Regions from separate parts of the Homo sapiens genome. Here region 1 is linked to region 2. Evidence: fine-mapped QTL for protein levels in blood plasma. A gene starts in region 2. The other region holds a variant in brackets. All regions are shown on one strand. Distances are between the middles of the regions.

Region 1 (5,373 bases), 98 kb before region 2:
TGATGCCATAACCTGTCAAACATTTGCGTCTCATTTATCCCTTTTGGATCCCCTTATAAGCCTCTCATATGTGGGTGTCTTATTTGGTCCTCCAAAGCTCACCTCAGCTCCCTGCCCTTCTGCATTCCTAGTTTGAACCACTCAACCCAGCCAACCTTCTCTGCCTCTCTTCTAGCCTCTTCTTTCCAGGAAATCAGCTGTGAGAGAGGTTAGGAAGCTTGAAGGATAAATGAGTTTTATAGTGTTCCTTCTCCACTTTCATGCTGGCAGTAGTGTCCATTTCATTTCTTGGCCTTCTCTTTAAGAATTAACAGAGCTGGGCGCGGTGGGTCACGCCTGTAATCCCAGCACTTTGGGAGGCTGAGGCGGGTGGATCACCTGAGGTCAGGAGTTCGAGATCAGCCTGACCAACATGGTGAAACCCTGTTTCTACTAAAATACAAAAATTAGCTGGGCGTGGTGGTGCATGCCTGTAATCCTAGCTACTTGGGAGGCTGAGGCAGGAGAATTGCTTGAACCCGGGAGGCAGAGGTTGCAGTGAGCCGAGATTGTGCCATTGCACTCCAGCCTGGGCAGTAAGAGTGAAACTCTGTCTCAAAAAAAAAACAAAACAAAAAACGGAGTTTGAGACTAGCCTGGCCAGCGTGGTGAAACTGCGTCTCTACTAAATGTACAAAAATTAGCCAGGCATGGTGGCGGGCGCCTGTAATTCCAGCTACTCGGGAGGCTGAGGCAGGAGAATTGCTTGAACCCGAGAGGTGGAGGTTTCAGTGAGCCGAGATTGTGCCATTGCACTCCAGCCTGGGTGACAGAGTGAGACTCCATCTCAAAAAAAAAAAAAAAAAAGAAAAAATTAAACAGGAGTGTGCCATGCTGTTTATCTTTGATAGAACTTCCCTCAAAGGACTAACGAGCAAAATATTTTGGGAGTAGTTTTGGCCACATTTTGTGCTTAAAAAAATGTAAGCACAAAGTTTTAGACCTCAGAGATCTAGGCCTGGGATTATTGTATATATTACAGGTAGGCATTAGGTAAATCTATTTTTTTTTCTTTTTGAGACGGAGTCTTGCTCTGTCGCCCAAGCTGGAGTGCAATGGTGTGATCTCGGCTCACTGCAACCTCTACCTCCCAGGTTCAAGTGATTCTCCTGCCTCAGCCTCCCAAGTAGCTGGGATTACAGTCACCTGCCACCATGTCCAGATAATTTTTGTATTTTTAGTAGAGACAGGGTTTCATCATGTTGGCCAGGCTGGTCCCGAACTCCTGACCTCAGGTGATCCACCTGCCCCAGCCTCCCAAAGTGCTGGGATTACAGGTGTGAGCCACCATGCCTGGTGGTAAATGCATTTTTGATGAGGGAAAGGTACCATATTTTTTGTCTCATTTTCAAAGGGACTCCTCAAAAGGTTAAGAATCACTGTTTTGATCCAGCTTCTTGCCTCATTTGACAGTTGAAGCTGAGGCTGAGAAAGGCGAAAGTACTTGTTCATCACTACTGAATGGGTATCTAGGCTTGATGAGTATCCCGAGTTTTCTGCTGTACCACAAATAAATCCAAAGGGTTCAAGGGGTTAAATTTCCCTTTTTAATTTTTTCTCTTGCCTTCTCGTCCTTTTCTACCCCTTCTTCACTTTTATTTGCTTGTGTTCATTTATTGGTTGTCTTTTTTATTTTTATTTTTGCTTCCTTAGGCAAAGCCATGACTACAGTAGTGGTACATGTGGACTCCAAAGCTGAGCTCACTACCCTGCTGGAGCAGTGGGAAAAGGAACATGGCAGTGGGCAGGACATGGTACCTATCCTTACCAGGTATGAATAACTTTTTTAAAACCTAGTTTAATAAAAAACCTCGGACACAACTCATACGCTAGATTTCTTCATACACACACACACACACACACACACACACACACACACAAACTAGTTTAAAAAGAAGCAAAAATTGGTGTGGAGAATAGCATAGGAACATTTTCACCTAGACTGTAAATTCTAAATCAATTTTTTTCTTTCCTCAGATTTAGTCTTTATCTCCCTACTTCCTGAAGCTGTTTAATTTTCTTATTTAATTTAATTTAATTTTTTTTTTTTGAGTCAGAGTTTTGCTTTGTTGCCCAGGCTGGAGTACAATGGTGTGATCTCGGCTCACTGCAACCTCCGTCTCCTGGGTTCAAGGGGTTCTCCTGCCTCAGCCTCCCAAGTAGCTGGGATTACAGGCTCCCACCACCATGCCCGGCTA[C/A]TTTTTATATTTTTTAGTAGAGACGGGGTTTCACCATGTTGATCAGGCTGGTCTCGAACTCCTTACCTTAGGTGATACACCCGCCTTGGCCTCCTCCCAAAGTGCTAGGATTACAGGCGTGAGCCACTGAGCCTGGCTTTTTTTTTTTTTTTCATACGGAGTTTTGCTCTTGTTGCCCAGGCTAGAGTGCAATGGCGTGATCTCAGCTTACTGTAACCTCCGCCTCCTGGGTTCAAGCAATTCTCCTGCTTCAGCCTCCTGAGTAGCTGGGATTACAGGCGTTTGTCACCACGCCCAGCTAATTTTTGTATCTTTTTAGTAGAGACGGGGTTTCACCATGTTGGTCAGGCTGGTCTTGAGCTCCTGAGCTCAGGTGATCCACCTGCCTTGGCCTCCCAAAGTGCTGGGATTACAGGTGTGAGCCACCATGCCCAGCATATTTTTAAATTAAAAAAATAAAAATAAAAAAAATTAGACTCATTTCCCAACTGTTTGGTGAATGTATCTTTTTTTTTTTTTTTTTTTTTGAGATGGAGTGTTGCACTGTCTCCTGGGCTGGAGTGCAATGGCACGATCTCGGCTCACTGCAACCTCCGCCTCCCGGGTTCAAGTTATTCTTCTGCCTCAGCCTCCCGAGTAGCTGGGATTACAGGTGCACGCCACCACACCCGGCTAATTTTTGTATTTTTAGTAGAGACGGGGTTTCACCATGTTGGCCAGCCTGGTCTTGAACTCCTGAGCTCAGGTGATTCACCTGCCTTGGCCTCCCAAAGTGCTGGGATTACAGGTGTGAGCCACTGCGCCCGTCCTGGTGAATATATCTTTACCTGGCTCTTCTGGCTCTGTTTTTTTGGAGACAGGGTCTCACTCTGTCACCAGGCTGTAGTGGCATGATCTCAGCTCACTGCAGCCTTGATCTCCTGGACTCAAGCCATCTTCTTACCTCAGCCTCCCTACTAGATGAGACCACAGGTGTGCACCACCACACCTGACTAATTTTTAAATTTTTTGTAGAGGGAGGGTCTCCCTGTGTTACCCAGTCTGGTCTTGAACATCTGGGCTCAAGCAATCCTCCTGTCTCGGCCTCCCAAAGTGCTGGGATTACAGGCGAAGCCACAGTGCTGGCCTACTTGGCTCTTCTACAGATACCTGAAACAGACCATGTCCAAAATTGAGCTTATCATCCTCATTTCTGTGTGTCTCCTCATTTATTCATAACTTAATGCTTTTTTTATTCCCTACCTTGGTTTTAAACTGAATGGTTTTAAACTGAAAAACTTTTTTTGTTTTTATTTTTTGGGGGGATGGAGTCTCACTCTGTTGCCTAGGCTGGAGTGCATTGGCATGATCTTGGCTCACCACAACCTCCACCTGCCAGGTTCAAGCAATTCTCCCTGCCTCAGCCTCCTGAGTAGCTGGGATTACAGGTGCCCGCCACGACGCTGGCTAATTTTTGTATTTTTAGTAGAGGTGGGGTTTTGCCATGTTGGCCAGGCTGTTCTCGAACTCCTGACCTCAAGTGACCTGACTGCCTCGGCCTCTCAAAGTGCTGGGATTACAGGCGTGAGCCACTGTGCCCGGCATATTTTACCTTTCATTTTTTTTGAGACGGAGTCTTGCTCTCTGCCCCAGGCAGTGGTGCGATCTTGGCTCACTGCAACCCCCACCTCCTAGGTTCAAGTGATTCTCCTGCCTGAGCCTCTGGAGTAGCTGGGATTACAGGCATAAGCCACCATGCTCGGCTAATTTTTCTGTTTTTTTTAGTAGAGATAGGGTTTTGCCATGTTGGCCAGGCTGGTCTTGAACTCCTGACCTCAGGTGATCCACCCACCTCGGCCTCCCAAAGTGCTGGGATTACAGGAGTGAGCCATTGCGCCTGGCCTGCATTAGGTATTGCTCATGTCTTGACTGGCCCATTAAGCAGTGTGCCTTATAAGTTTACCCTCCAGTTTACCCTCTTTTAATACATCCTCCCCCTTGCTGAAAGATTCCTTTTTCTCATACACAAATAGGATTTTCCTACCTTCATTCATACCTACATTCTTCTCCGACTTCCTTTTTCCTACAGAGTAAAATGTAAAGTTTTTAGTGTGGCCTATGTGGCCATTTATGATGTGGCTTACTTTCATAATATTGTAGTTCTTTCGCTGTAAAAAGTAAGAAATCAATGCATAAAAAGTTGTTTTCACAGCTATGATATTGGGGATGGGATGTTGAGGATTCCCACGTTCCAGTGACCTTCTCCTTAGAAAACCCATGAGCACCTCTACCCAGCCTTTACTTTTCACTCTTTCTACCTTAACAGATTTTTTCAATAAAATTATGTACCACACAGTTATTAAGTACCAGGCAGTGGGTAGATCATCATTTGAGGAGACACCAATAAAAAGACATAGTATGTGCTTTCAAGAATTTTACAATTTAGTGAGGAAACACGTGTAAAAAAAACGGTTCTAGTATAGTGTGGTATAATGGCAGAAAATTAAAATACATACACATGAATGATAGGAGTATTAAAACAAATCAAGGGGTGCTGGGTTTGGTGCCTCACACCTGTAATCCCAGCCCACTGTAAATGGCATCACATCATAAGTAGCCCCACAGGATGAGAAAAAGGAGGATGGCCTCTTTTTTCTCCCTCATAGTATTAGTCTCTTTCTGTAAGTATTAACTTTTTTTTTTTTTTTTTTTTTGAGGCAGACTCTAGCTCTGTCGCCCAGGCTGGAGTGCAGTGGCACAATCTTGGCTCACTGCAACCTCCGCCTCCTGGCTTCAAGCAATTCTCCTGCCTCAGCCTCCCGAGTAGCTGGGATTACAGGCGCCCACCACCACGCACGCCCAGCTTATTTTTGAATTTTTAGTAGAGATGGGGTTTCACTGTGTTGGCCAGGCTGGTCTCGAACTCCTGACCTCATGATCCGCCCACCTCAGCCTCCCAAAGTGCTGGGATTACAAGCATGAGCCACCCTGCCCGGCTGGATTAACGTATTTTTTAATGTCTTTGTGCCTTTACACTTGGTATTTCTTTGGCCTGAAATGCCTTTCCTTGGCATGTCTGCATGGCAGGCCTAGTCCTTAGAAGAAGTAGTTCAAGAATCATGTCTGTAAAACCTTCACTGACTTTGACTTTCATAGG
Region 2 (5,373 bases):
AATCTTGGCTCGGCTCACTGCAACCTCCGCCTCCCAGGTTCAAGCAATTCTCCCTGCCTCAGCCTCCTGAGCAGCTGGGATTACAGGCGCCTGTCACCATGCCTGGCTAATTTTTGTATTTTTTAGTAGAGATAGAGTTTTGCCATGTTGGCCAGGCTGGTCTTGAACTCCTGACCTCAGGTGATCCACCCACCTCGGTCTCCCAAAGTGCTGAGATTACAGGTGTGAGCCACCACGCCTAGCCTAAAAATTTTTTTGTGCAGACAGGATTTCACCACTTTGCCCAGGCTGATCTCAAACTCCTAAGTTCAAGCAATCCTCCCACCTTGGCCTCCCAAAGTGCTAGGAAGACAGGCATGAGCCACCGCACCTGGCCCACAGCGGCATTTTTCGGTGCCCTGCCTGTACTGGTAGTCAGATTCAGCCAGTGTAAACCCTGGACTCTTAACACATGCTCAGTCCAAGCTGACAGCCACCAAATGAATTTAAGTGTCACCAGGGTTCAAACCTTTAACAGAGAGAAAAGCCAGAGACTGTCAGAGAAATTCAAGTTAGAAAACCCATTGCTTCACTAGGGCTTTTGTCTTGGATTCGGCCCTTGCCTATCCTGTAGGCACCCTGTCACCTTCTCCTGTCCACATACATGCCACACTCTTTCAGGCCTCTGGGCACTCACACTGCTGTTCCCTGTATGGGATGGTCTTACCCCACTTCAATGATAACCCTTCCTCAGAGACTTCTTGGCCACTCTAAATCAGCACCTGCTGGTCCATTTTCTTCATGACACCCAGACATTGCATTATTTGTGTGTCCGACTGTCACTTCTTTCCCCTGATATTCCCAGTGCCTAGCACATAGTAGGTGCTTAATAAAGACTAACAGGATAAAAAAAAATCACAGTTGCAGAACACATGCTGCTTTGGGAAGGACATAGAAGCACTTCAGTCTTCTCACATTAGTTTATGGAGAGAGTAGCTGGCTTCCTGAACAGAGAGGTGGGCAAGGCCTTTTATCAAACGGCTGGTGAAGCCGAGGGTTAACATGAGCCAGGGCCAGTTGGGGAGGATCACCAGCTACTTACCAACCGATTCTCTTTGCCTCTTGCTTCCCGGCAGAACTTTATAAGTTCGTTTTCAATAGTGGCTGGTGAGAATGTGACATCTCTGTCTTTGAGGTCCTGGTAAAATCTTCCCAGATAAGAAATACAAACTGGAAAAGAGAGGGACGGGAGATGCTCAGCAATCACCAAGCTGTTCCAATCCACCAGAAAAGAACTCCGCCAGCAATTTTAATAGGAGACACGGAGATGAATCATTAGAGGTGAGCTTTTCCATCACCGATTTTTCTCAGGTGTCTACAGGTAGACAGAACCCGGTTCCAAGTGGCGGGGGTCCCCTGGTACACCCAGGGCATCAAAGGACCAAGCATCACCCAATGACCTATAAACGACTTCTCCCTGCTCCTTTCATCAAGTTTAAGCCCATGGTGAACACGTGTCCTTGAGACGGGACTCACTGTGACCTCATAAATGGAGAGACTGGAAGGTGAAGAGAAAAATGATCAAAATGCTGCTGCTAATTTCCAAATACAACAGCGGACCCAGAGGTGCAGCTTCGTGATCCCAACAGACAGGGCGCAGCACCCACGGCCAGCCCTGGAGCTCCCGACGCCGAACGGGGAGCGGTAACCTCTAGATGGTGGTGGGGACAATAACTCAGGAGTGATGGAGATTTCAGGACAAGTTTTCAACGGGATCTAGTCTCAACTTTTCTTCGTCGGACCAATGTTTTCTAGGCCCAAGAAAGATTTACTAGGGCGGGCGCCGGAGCCTCCTCATGCAGGCCCCGCGGGGACCTGCTGTCGCCCCCGCCCCCGCCCCCGCCCTCGCCCTCTTGGCCCCGGCCGTCTGGTGATGTTGTGGGGTTCAGCGCCGCCGCCAGAACGGTCACGGAGCGCGGCCCCCGGCCCCCTATCCCGCACCTTCGCAGTCGCCCGGCCGCAGCGCCCGGCTGCCCGGCAGCACGCTCAGAGCCAGCGCCACCGCCAGCCCCTGCGTGGCCCACATCCTCCTCATCCTCCTCATCCTCCTCCTCCTCCTCCTCCTCCGCTGCCGCCGCCGACCGACTGAACCGCACCCGCCGCGCCGCACCGCCTCCAAGTCCCGGCCGCGCGCCGTAGCTCCCCATTGGCGGGGGGCCCCCCGGCGCCCTCCCACATGCCACTTCCCCATTGGTCCAGGAGCCGCGAGCCCAGACGGGCGGCTCCACGCTGCCCTCCCTCATTGGCTGGTGGTGTCTGAGCCCTAGACAGTTGTCGGCCGCTGATTGAACCCGGGCTGGCCGCAGGAAGCGACTACAGCAGCGACGGAAGCGGTGTGGGCCGCCATCTTGGGTAAGGGCAGCGACTGTGGCTGAGGCTGGGTACTGCTAGCTGAATGGGGTTCGGCCACGCCTTACATCTGTTGAGTTGACCCGCGTACCCCTGCCCTGGGCCCCAGGCTCCCTCGAAAACCCCTGCTGATCTCCTCGCCCGGACTCCGACTCGTGGTGCAGGAGTTCTGGGGTCAGCCAAGACAACAGGTTAGGCAGGAAGGGCGGGCGGCCGCAGGCAAGGCTCAAAGAGGTTTCTTTTTTCTTCTTTCATTCGCGTGGGCAACGGATCCAACCTTTGAAAGCCCACCTGCTGATCCTCCACCTGACCGGAGCCCGCCGTGCATAGGCTGATAGGAGACGTGCGGGGTGGACGGACTGCGGGACATCTGAAGGAAGGGCTCAAGGCGCGCCAAGCTCAAAGCTGGGCCGCCACTCTAGACCGTGGAGGGAAGCGCCCGGGCCAGATCATCGGTCGAGGACATGGGGTCGCCTCAGAGTGGGAAGGTGAGGGGCTCGGGAGGTGCCCTTACAAGCTCTGAATCGTGGCTTGGTGGCTGGCCAGCCTCCTCCTGCCTCCCCGGCTAGGCCCTCGGGGTCCCCCGCTGCCGTGGGACCTCCTGAGTGGGGTCCCGGGAATCACCAGAGAAGCACTGGAGGATGTTTCCTTTTCGACTGCCCTCCTTTCAAGTGCCCTCCTGGCTGCCTGCCTTCAAGGCAGGATGCGGGAACCGTTGGCTCTACTCAGTGCAAAAAGGACATGTCTATAGGGCTAAAAAGGGCTTGGAGCCCGGCGACAAGGGTTGGAGAGGGGCACATCCTCTGCTCCCATTCAGTGAATTCAGTGGATCAGTATCACGTATTTATCTTTAATTCACATCACAGCAGTCAAGGAAGTGGGGAAAGGGGGAAAAAAAATCAAGTGGCAGATATTTACATCTAAAATTCACATTACTTGTTGGATTTTGAACATGCTACCACAATATATACAGTAAAATACCTCTTGGGACAATGGTACAAATTTTGTTTCCTTTAACTTTGCTTTTCTGGTACAGGTAAGATCATTTTTAAATCACTTTTTTTCTTTAAACATGAATACACAAAAGAAATGGTTAGAAGTTTCCTTGTTTTAAATAAGCACAGAATGCGGGAGGTTAAAAACACATTTATAGTGCTGAATACCAATTGGACATCACACTCTATACATTTTTTGCTCAAATTCCTGTACAAATACACAGCATTCAAATAGGTATTTACAAATAAGCTTGAAAGAATGAAAATCAGTATTTTACAATCTTTTCAAAGGGTTCTCATCTCTGGCCTCCCATTTCCCCTCAGACTGACTTATTCTCCAACAAAAGGGATTTCAGAATGTGTCCTTTTCATTTAGTTAGGGAAAATGGAGAGGGAAAACAAACGGTTTCACCTTGCATAATGCGAAGCCAAATGAACCCATACTCCCCTCCCTACCTCTTGTGCCACCAAGTGGAGAAGGTAGCTGTTCTTATGTGATGACTGCCTTGTCCAGGGATTGACTTTCAGAAGTGCCTTAAAATCTAAGCCCTCCTACCTATGAATCAAATCCAAAACTAGCCCCTAACCCCTAACCCTCTAACACCTGTGAACACCAGATGGTCCAGAGATTGAAGCTTGCAAATGAATGTAGGCTGAGAAGCAGGCCAGCCCTTTGAGGTGAGGGCTGCTGTAACTGACCCATATCCTCAGCAGCCTTCCGCCCCACTCTGCCTGGAGTGAACCTGGTGGTATCAGAAGGGACCCACACTGGTGATAAACCCCCAGAAAAACCCTGGAGGTAATTTAGACCTCCATCTTTCCCAGTAGGTTATTAGCATTTCTGTTAAACAAGCTGGGGTTTGTTTACAAGAGAAAAACACACTGACCATGGCCTTTACTGTCTGGAAAGAGGGGCAGTGGAGAAGGGACAAGGGGCTTGGGCCCAGGGCCTGGCTGTGGAGGTCATACAGGCCAGCAGAAGAGGAACTGGGGGCAATACGCCTGCCCAACAAGGCAGCCTTGTGACCATCATTAATGTGAACTCGAGCAAATAAAAGAAAAAAAATATTTTGTAGGCTTTTTTTAAAGTAACTTAAAAGCACCCTGGTAAAGTACTACTATACCCACCTGACCCTATCCCCCCAAATAATAAACTGAGAGGAAAATCAGTGCCCTGACTTGAATGAGTTTCCTCTAAAGACACCACTGCTCTGCTTTATAGTTTCCTATAAAGACACCAACAGACTGGGGAGACTGGAGAAACTACCCTCCTGCCAGCCCCGAACCCTGAGTGGTGGTCCCCATGGCCTGGAGTGGGTTGCTGTATGTGGCCACTTGGGAGATGACAATTCTACCTGCATGGCTATCTGCTTCCAAAAGGAGAAGCCCCCTCCCACCCTCTTTACCCAGGAGCCTGCTGAACCTGACCACATGTCCTCAGGGCCTGGAAGCCTGGCTGGGCAGCCAACCCCATGGCTCAGAGGTAGTGCTGAAAATCCCTGATTCAGGAGCTGATGGTAGGCATTCTGGATGCTTCTGAAAGCTTTGAGGATTTCCGGCGCCTGCCACACCCCACACTCTTACACCAGTCTCTCTACCACATAGGAAGGGGACCAGCTCCCCCTAGGAGGAAGGTAGCTAGGATAGCCTCTCTGGCTCCATACCTCCACTCAAACCCCAGAGGGCGGGAGATAACCCTTGCAGATCCAGTCACCACTGGGGCTCCTGTGGGGCATGAGGTGTTTCAAGAATGGAAGGGAGCAAATGGTCAGAAATGATGTGATGGAGAGAAAAATCCAAGGTGGAGTAGGAGACGGCTGGCCCATTGAACCCTGGCAGTGCCCTGGGCATGCAGTTAGGCCAGTCACATGCCTGAGCCAGCAGGTTGGTCCAGCCAGCCCCTCAGTAGCACACTCCTGGATGGAAGAGGGGCAGGTGGGCAGGCATTTGTGCAAAACGGCTTGTGGCCCTTTTTCCACCTGTGACATGT

Alleles and levels. Alleles are on the strand shown, and positions count from the first base shown. The strength of an association depends on the size of the effect and on how common the allele is.
In carriers of allele C in region 1, the plasma level of the protein whose gene starts at base 2,126 in region 2 tends to be lower than with A alone (strong association).

The links. PIP is the chance, under the fine-mapping model, that this variant and not a neighbour inherited with it causes the effect. Protein levels are from antibody-based Olink assays in UK Biobank. Linkage for the fine-mapping came from a reference panel and not from the study's own genotypes, which makes the PIPs less certain.
Region 1: its variant is fine-mapped to the plasma level of the MANF protein (UK Biobank, PIP above 0.99).

What each region holds. Positions count from the first base shown.
Region 1 is chr3:51,480,156-51,485,528 of GRCh38, reverse strand. It overlaps DCAF1 (DDB1 and CUL4 associated factor 1), which reads left to right. Exons shown (of 25, transcript NM_001387579.1): 3 at 1,693-1,810. The coding sequence starts at 1,701. Among named protein-coding and RNA genes, the nearest start is that of DCAF1, 17 kb to the left of the region's middle. The variant C/A (reference allele first, on the strand shown) is at 2,238.
Region 2 is chr3:51,382,044-51,387,416 of GRCh38, reverse strand. MANF (mesencephalic astrocyte derived neurotrophic factor) reads right to left here and starts at 2,126. Exons shown (of 4, transcript NM_006010.6): 1 at 1,981-2,126; 2 at 1,082-1,209. The coding sequence starts at 2,074. DOCK3 (dedicator of cytokinesis 3) reads right to left here. Exons shown (of 53, transcript NM_004947.5): 53 at 3,219-5,373. RefSeq lists a silencer at 1,931-2,300 and an enhancer at 2,361-2,710.